2 separate regions of the Homo sapiens genome follow, and region 2 is linked to region 1. Evidence: fine-mapped expression QTL. A gene starts in region 1. The other region holds a variant in brackets. All regions are shown on one strand. Distances are between the middles of the regions.

The links. PIP is the estimated chance that this variant, and not a neighbour inherited with it, causes the effect. A credible set is the group of variants that fine-mapping cannot tell apart.
Region 2: its variant is the best candidate, but not a certain one, in a credible set for the expression of SH3TC1 in visceral fat (GTEx, PIP 0.87).

The regions. Positions count from the first base shown.
Region 1 is chr4:8,197,772-8,202,147 of GRCh38, forward strand. It overlaps SH3TC1 (SH3 domain and tetratricopeptide repeats 1), which reads left to right and starts at 1,519. Exons shown (of 18, transcript NM_018986.5): 1 at 1,519-1,634. RefSeq lists enhancers at 756-855, 1,206-1,325, 2,356-2,405, 2,536-2,585, 2,716-2,865 and 1 more and a silencer at 1,536-1,725.
Region 2 is chr4:8,217,490-8,221,865 of GRCh38, forward strand. It overlaps SH3TC1 (SH3 domain and tetratricopeptide repeats 1), which reads left to right. Exons shown (of 18, transcript NM_018986.5): 8 at 782-858; 9 at 1,846-2,041. Among named protein-coding and RNA genes, the nearest start is that of SH3TC1, 20 kb to the left of the region's middle. The variant T/C (reference allele first, on the strand shown) is at 2,105.

The DNA of each region.
Region 1 (4,376 bases):
CTGGCCTCAGTGGGGCGGAGGGAGGGTGTGACTTGAGGGCTCACCGTGCAGGATGCAGGGACTTGAGGTAAGCGTCAGCCCCTGGGCAGAGCCTGTGATTAGAGAAAGGTGAACAGGACGGGAGGGCGAGGATGAAGGACGCAGGTGTGGGCTGGAGGGGCTTTGACCTGAGTAGCTCACCTGGGCTGGGAGTTCTCAGCCTGGGGTGACTTCACCCCCAGGGGATCAATATCTGAGCTATGTTTGGCTGCTATGATTAGAGGAGGGGGCTACTGGCATCCAGTGGGTGGAGGCCAGGGACCAGCTAAAACCCTCCAGTGCACAGGACAGCCCCCCGCCCTGCAACAAAGAAGGATGCGGCCCCAAATGTCGGTAGTGCCTTGGTTGAAAAGCCCAGCCCTAAAGCCTTCAGAACCAGTCAGACCTGGTTCCAGTCTTATCTTCTTGTTGGTCACTGGCCTTGGGCATGTCACATTACCTCCCTGAGCCTTAGTTTTCCTGTCTGTGAGATGGATACATAACTATTTGACTTAGGGATTATTCTTGGTTTTCTCAAACCAGGTGTGTGTAAAGCTCCGACCTATCACAGCACAGGCTGGAGGGATCCCTCCCATTCCCACTTCCTAGAGCTGGGCCGGAGCCCGCAGCCCACACCCACCACGTGGGTGCTCACACTCCTGTGTTGGCAAGGGCATCAGAGCAGGCAGACAGGCGGGACCAACAGGGCAATTTGAGTTCAGTTCTGCCTCTTGTCCCAGCTGACGTGAGCCCAGGCCAGGCTTCCTCAGCAGGCAGGGGCGAGATTACGTGCTTTGGCCTTGGGTCTGCCTGGCTGGGAAGGTTTCTGCTCTCAAACCTGGCTCAGGCCTGGAGACGGTGGGAGGGTAAAGAGGTAGACCCGTTGGGACAGGCCAGGCTAGCAAGGAGAGCTTGCGGTGAGGAGGAGGGGAGCCCATCTCTTCCCCTAAATGTTCCCATTGATGGAGCCAGTGGCCCGGAGGGCACCCGGGCAGAGACGGAAGAAATTGCACGTGAGCGTTTGTGTGCATACGTGTGCCTGTCCATGTGTGCACACACTTGTGCTTGTGAGTCTCTGTGTGCCCATGCATATGTATGTGTGTCTGCATGCACATGCGTGTGTGTGTGCATGCATGTATGTGTGCAGGCATGCGTGTGTGTGTGTGTGCAGTAAATGGAAGAGGAACAGAGATCAGAGCTGAGGCTGGCAGGGCTGAGGCAGCCGGTGGCTGGTGGACTTCCCCAATCCCAGCCTGGCGGGGGACTGGGTGCCCCTAGCCTCTACTACAGAGCCTGGGGGCTGGGCAGCGGGCAGGCAGGACAGGGCCTGGACCTCGTCCAGGAAAGAGCTAATGATCAACCGGCTGCGGTGTCTGTGCAGCCGCCCTGGGCCTGCCTCTCCGTCACCGGCCCTCAGGCGCAGGGAGGAAGTAGGGCAGGAAGCAGGGGGCGGAGGCCGCTGTGCAGTCAGCCTGGCTGTGGGCGGCCCCTGCCTGCTCCGTCCAGCTGGAGACAGCCCCGTGGGGCCAGCCAGCGCTGGGCCAGGAGCGGCCACCTGGTTCCTGCGTGCTACGGCCCTGTGGGCCTGGGAGCTGCCTCTGAGGAACACGCCGCAGGTATGGGGGGCTCCGGGGCAGGCGGGGCGTGGACTGGCCGAGCAGGCTGCTGTCTGCCAGTCTTGCCATGGTTGGATCTTTACACTTTCTTGAGGACTTTTCTGACCTGTTTGGGATGGGGGTGGAGCGAAACTGCGAGCTGGGGGCCTCGGGGAGGTCGTCGGCACCCTCAGCAGACCCCACTCAGAGCTCACAGGTGCTGGCAGTGCCAATCCGCAGTGATTGAGGGCAATGATTTCAGCTTTGACCAAGCACCCTTGCTTCTGGGACCTGGCCTGACCCCGTGCTGGCCCTTGGCATGAGCGGCCCTGGGGGTCTGGGAGCAGAGCCAGCCTGTCGCTGGATTCCAAGTCCAGCGGATCTCAGGTGTGACCCCAGCGCCCGGTTAGCTTGGGCCACACTACCAGACCTACCAGGGCGAGCCCAGCGCCTCAGCCTCACCCGGCACCGCAGTGGCTATAACTGGCCACTCTGATGCCGCCACCTGGGCCTCTTTTCCAACAACCAAATGGACCAGCAACTGGACCAGGGGCTTCAGCCTGAAAATTCCAGGGAGGGTCTGGGCCCAGCCTTCAACTGCAGGTGTGCCGGGGCGTGTGCTCCTGTGTGTGTACACCACTGAGACCCCCTCTGGGCCTGTGCGTGATCCCCAGGAGCCCTGGGAGCCCTGCCCTGTCTGTGAAGCGGGAGTTTCCAACCTTTTGCCGTTGACGAGGCTCAGATGAGATGAATAGCAAAGTGACGCTGGGGGGTGTTAGCGGTGTCGGCCAGTGCCAGGGCCAGGGGCAGCCTGCATGTGGGCCGGCCACTCAGGGTGTGGCCTCCCAGCGCCAGGCAGCGGGGCTGCGGCTGAGCTTGTGGCTGGAGGCAAGGCTGGGCCCGAGTCAGGTCTGGGTTTAGGATGGGTATGTGGGGGCTGGGCTCTGACCACCTGGGTTCAACCCCACCTGTGCTGCTTGGCTGTGTGACCTTGGGCAGGCAGAGTCACCGCAGCTGATGGCTCATCCGTGAAAGGGGCACAGCTGTGCCTCCCTCCTCCAGGTGAGCCGAGGATGCTGTGAGCACCCTGGATGGCCATAATTATGTGACTGTCAACACTGTTGTTGACAGTGATGACAACTGTGTCCCGTGTGGGGCGCTGGGCCAGCGTTTTTTGCATGGAGACGTCACTCACTCTTCCAGCAACACGGGTGACGATGGCCGCACAACACAGAAGAGCAAGGCAGGGCCCAGCAGCGCACGGGTGCGCCGGTTTCCCCTGCTGCCAGAGCGCAGGACACAGCCCTCTCGGTCGTGTTCTCTCGCGGCTCTGGAGGTCGGAATTCCGAACTCAAGGCGTCCCTCAGAAGGCTACTGGGCGGCTCCTCCCTGCCTCTTCCCGCTGCCTGTGGCTCAGGGCGCTCCTTGGCTGTGATTACATCAGTCCACTCTCCGCCCTGGTGGTCACATGGCCTCCTGCCCGGCTCCTCTGTGTGTCTCCGTGTCCTCTCTTTTACTTACAAGGACACCACGCACTGGATTTAGGGCCATCCTCATCTGGAACACCCTCATCCCAAGGGAAGGTCGCTTCATCTGCGCAGACCATTTCCAAATAAGGCCCCATTCTGAGGTTTCTGGGGGCATGAATTTTGAAAGGACAGTGTCACCCCAGGATGCGAGGTGACAAGCCAACCCTCCGGAGGTGCTTGGTGGCATAGGTGAGGTCTCAATGGCCCTAGAAGTATTTGTTCCGTAAGAGCCTGGCGAAAGCTTGGCCAAAGCTTCCCAAACCCATTCAGGGCTGGCCGCGGCCCTCTCCCTTCTTCTTCCAACCCACATTCACCAAACTCTGACTGTGGACCAGGAGCACTGTCCCTTTAACCCACTCGACCCACTTGTGCGGTGTGCGTGCTCATTCTCATTTTCTGGCTCAGTAAATTGAGGCATGGAGAGGCCTCCCAGACACCGGGGTTTGGCCCCACGTCTCCGTGTTCTGGAGCCAAACTCCACCCCTTCCCCCGGGGCTGGAGGCTGGCCTGGGGCTGGAGCCTGTTCTGACCCATCCAGGGCCCCCCAAGGGTTTGTCCTGATGATAAACTGAACAAACAGGATGAAGGCAGGAAGGAGAGAGTCCTGCAGGCTGCTTGGTGGTCCCCCAGCTGGGTGAGCTGGCCCCTGGGGGCGTCAACACCTGCCCGTGGTTGGGGCCTCTGCTTGTGCAGTGGTGGCTGGGCCTGCAGGGCTGAGGGAGGGGACGCTGTGGAGAAGGAGCTCACTTCCTCATCGCCAGGCTCTGCACAGGAATCCCACGCTTAGGGTTATAACAGCAGGTGGGAAATTCCCTGAGCCTGGGGAGCCCTCCTTTTCTCAGAAGACAGTCTCTGAGTACCAGCTGTGTGCCAGGCCCGGAGAAGCCCTGGATGCCGTTTCGAACAGGCCTGTTCCTAACCCAGGGGGAGGTGGTGGGCTGGGAGGCAGGCAGGTGTCCCGGGCATCAGCCAGTGGATGGAGAGAGGCTGCTGGGACTCCTGCTCTGCCTATAGGGACATAAGACCCAGCTTCTGAGGGACAAAAAGGCAGAGATGGGAGGACAAGGACTCCAAGGTCAGGCGTTCGGAGCGAAAGACCCCTTAAACCAGGGAGCTCGCATGCCCAGGGAGTGGATTCCAGCGCTTTGTTGAGACGCCTCCATGTGCTTCCGGAGAGGAGATGGGAAGACAGCCTGGCCTTGCAGGCAGGGGCTTCCTGGTGCTGCCACAGACT
Region 2 (4,376 bases), 20 kb after region 1:
ATCCAGAGTGAGAAGGCACACGGGACCCACAGATAGAGCCAGGGGATGTGAGGACAGGTGACATGCAAACTCCTGTTCACTTGCTGAAGCGGGGGGCATTAACTTGGGTTGGAGCTTCCTGGTAGCCAAAGCAAAGAGAGAACCTCAATCTCTTGATTTGCAGTGTCTCAAGTGACAGGCTGTGGCTTGGCTTCTCTCATTACTGAGACCCAAGAGGAGCTTCTCCTAAGAATCCTTCCTATGTGCTCTGGCCAGTGGTGTCCCAACAGGGGACACTGAGAGTGTTCTGCCATCTGGGAAAGAGGGATTGTCAGTCATCTAGTCCAGCTTCCTTTTTTTTCTGGCTGAAGGAACTGAGGCTGAGAGAGGAGTGATCTGTCCAGGTTATATGGCAAAGTCACAGTGGTACTAGGATTTGAATCCAGGCCTCCAGAGCCCCAGGCTGGGATCTCCCTCACCCCTCACTGTGTGGAGCTGGGGGAGGCAGGTGCTTTGGAGGTCTGCAGGGTTCCAGGCCCACAGGGGTGGCGGTGTTTCCAGGACACGGGCCCTAGGCTGAGGGGTGCGGGGCTCCCTGGGGGCAGTGCCACACGCACGGGGCCTGAAGGCCACACACCTGGGCAGGCATGTGTGTGTGTGTGTGTGTGCACGTGTGTGTGTTGGGGGAGGCGAGGGACCTGCTCAGGTTGCTGGGGGCTGCTGGCCTGTCCAGTCTCTGCACAGGATGTATCTGCCCCAAATCTGAAATCCCGCAGCAAAGACCTCCCTCTTCCGGCTCCAGGTGGGCTCTTAGGATCCCCCAGGACCCCATCGACGATGCCATGGGTGGCCCTGTGATGCCCGGCAACCCGCTGATGGGTAAGTGTTTCCATGGGCCTCTCTTTTTTGGGGAAATGTGTGTGCTAGGGAGCAGCACCAACATTTTGGAAGTTGCCCTACATCCTCCCTGAGCCAGAGAGATAGCTATCAGGTAGTGCAAGAGTAATTGTGGTTTTTGTTATTGCTTTCAATGGCAAAAACCGCAATTACTTTTGTACCAACCGAGTCTTCTCCAGCTTGTGAGGTCATAACTGACACTCAGGAAGCTCTGGGGGCTGGTGCAGCGTCATAGGATGCTCAGTGAAGCTGCACCAGGGCCCCCGGCCACTGTCTGCAAAGAGCTCCCAAACGCCACTTCTCAGACAGTGCAACCCAACAGTCTCAGAGTCTAGCCTTCTGTCACCATGGGAAACGCCTGGAAGGCCCTGGGCCGAGGTGGGCTGGCGCTGGCTGAATTTGCCACGTGCACTAACAGAGGACCGTGACCGCGTCCTCTTTATGAAAAGCTGGCACTGCCAGCAGCCCTTCTCCTTGGATGCCGGGTCCAGCGCTTTGTGCTCTGTGGCAAGCTGCCGGTGTCTGGATGGCCTGTGCACCTGTCAGAGCTGCCGGTGTCTGGGTGGCCTGTGCACCTGTCAGAGCTGCCGGTGTCTGGGTGGCCTGCGCACCTGTCAGGGGGACTAAAGCCCCATGCAGGAGCCGGGTGGGGAGTAGGTGGGGCCGGGGGTTGTGGCTGCAGAAGGAAAGGAGGAAAGAGCCTTGGCCTTGGAGGCTGATGGCCGAGGCTTATTTATCAACATCTCTGAGCCTCCATTTTTCTCATCTTCAACAGAGGGATAAAAACATCCCCTCTGAGGACCACGTAGACATTCCCTCCCTCATTGCGGAAACCAAGCTTTACTACGAACCTCCTAGTAACCAAAAGATGAATTCCCCATGGTTCAGGGTGGCTGGCATCGGCCCTGTCTGCCCGCTCTGGCCCCCATTTGGTCTCCCTGGCACTCACCATGTGGCTTTCTTCCGCAGCTGTGGGCCTGGCCTCGGCATTGGCAGACTTCCAGGGCTCGGGGCCCGAAGAGATGACCTTCCGAGGTGGCGACCTCATCGAGATCCTTGGGGCGCAGGTGCCCAGCCTGCCCTGGTGCGTGGGCCGACACGCAGCCTCGGGCCGGGTGGGGTTTGTGCGGAGCAGCCTCATCAGCATGCAGGGCCCCGTGTCCGAGTGAGTGGCTGGAGCCCCGCCCCTTTCCTGAACCCACCCCCATCTCACCTAAGGGGACGTTGC[T/C]GCGTCCACCTGGCTCCCCAGGTAACAAGCCTGAAAGTCACTGTGGACGATGCCTAGTCTCTTCCCTTGTCCTCAGGCTGCTGCCCCCTTGGCCCCAGTGCCTGACTCCAGGGTTCCCTGGCGTCCTTTCTCCGGGCTGCTGCAGGGAGAGCGTTCCCTCGAATGCACACCTGCCCATGTGCATCATCTTTCCGTGGCTACCGTGATAAGGCACTGCACGCCGGGGGCTTAAAGCAACAGAAATGTGCTTGTTCAGAGTTGTGGAGGCCAAAAGTCTAAAACCAAGGCCAGAAGGGCCACATTTTCTCTGGAGACTCTAGGGGAGGGTCCTTCTTGCCTCTTCCAGCTCCTGGTGGCCGTGGGCGTTCCTTGACCTGTGGCCACATCACTGCACTCTGCCGCCGTCTCCACGTGGCTGTCTTCCTCTGTGTGTCTTCCGTATTCTCTTCTTAAAAGGGTGCCCATCTCCTAGCACCCATCCAACTCCAATCTGACCTCATCTTAGCTGAACTAATTACATCTGCAAAGATCCTTTCTCCAAGAAAGCTTACCTTCTGAGGTTCCGGGAGACATGAATTGAGGGACACGATTTAATCCAGTACACACGTCGCTCTCCTCCGTTAAGCCCCAGGAAGCTTCTGGGCCCGACCTTGCAGGCCCCCATGGGCTGCACAGAGTACCTTGTGCCTTCCAAAACTGCTCTGGGTGACACGTGTGTCCTTCTGCCTGGGATGCCCCCTCTCCCTGAACCCCGTGTTCTCCTGGGGCCTTCCATCAGCCCCCGTGGCTCCTCTGGGGGGGGCACTCTTCTGGCCATACGCCTCTTCCTATGTGATTTACACGCCACCCATGACCTGCCTGCTCCCAGCCAGGGAACTCCAAGAGAAGAATTCCCTGGTCACTTCTGTGTTCTCACTGCCCAGTGCGAGCAGCAGCAGGGGGTCTTTGGAGAGGAGTCAGCTGTGCCCATCCTTTGATGGAATTCTGTTTCCCTGGCCTTGTCCTTGTTAAGACCTCAGTCAAGGAGCCCAGAGAATGTGGGTGCATGGAGAGGCCACCTTCTGGGTCATGTGATCCTGGTCCTGGCCCCACCAATGAGATGCTTGTCTTCAGTGGTCCTGTTCAATGTTTAGGGCTGCGACAGACCAACACCTCTCAGACCAGGTCTCAGAGGCCGTTTGTCACCATGCCTCATCAAGCCGTTCACTTGTTCCCCTCATGGAAAGGGTCCGTCTGCTCTGGTACCTCTGGCACCTGTGCATCAGAAGCAGCTGGAAGCTGGCCAGGCCATGCACTGATGGCAGGAGCTAGACCAGCAGTTCCCAAAGCATGTTCTCACACACTGCTCCATCATAGACTTCATCATGCCCTAAGGAGTGGGGAAAAGCTTTGTCCACATCCCTTGTGGGTGATCCCAGGGATTCCCAGCACAAACAAGGCATCTTTTTCCTGTTGAAATGCCTTTTCCACACTTACTTAACCTCCAGAATCCTCCACAACCCTGTTTGCTTTTGGCTGAGCTGGTGTTCCATGGGACACTCTTTGGGGATCCTTGGTCTAGCTGATCCCTACCATCTCCAAGGGAGACCACAAATTCTCAACAGGTCACTGGGGGCCGTGTGAAGTCAACATGTACTGAACTTACAAGGGGTCAGAGAAGAGCCAGGGAATGAGCTAGTTTGTTCCCTTCCTTTAACCCAGAAGGATGACGGGGCTGGGTGCCATTAGTCCTGTTCACAGCTGGAGAAATTCTGACTTCTCTCATTCACTCAACAAATGTTTGCTGAATATCTTTCCTATTCCAGACCCGGGGTTTTCATCTTTTATTTAGTGAACAACCTGGTAGCTCTTCTTTTTTTTTTTCTTTAACTTTATTTTTGACACAATTTCAGACTTAGAAGAAAGTTGCAAAAAGAGTATAACATTCCCACACGCCCTCACCCAGATTGCACAAATGTTAACATGTTATGACATTTGCTTTATTGCTTTCTCTCTTTCACTTCTATTTTTTTCTAAACACTTTGAGAGTAAGTTGCAAACATGATGTTCCTTTACCCCTAAATAATGCAGTATGTGGTTCCTAAAACCAGGACATCTGCTTACATAACTACAGTACAACTGTCGAAATCAGGAAATGAACGCAGATACAATGCCATTATCTACAGATCTTACTCAGATTTTGCCAGGAGCCACAATGATGGCCTTTGTAGACAATGACAATTTCAGACCACGTGTTCTATTCAGACGTCATGTCTTGCCTCCTTAATGTGAA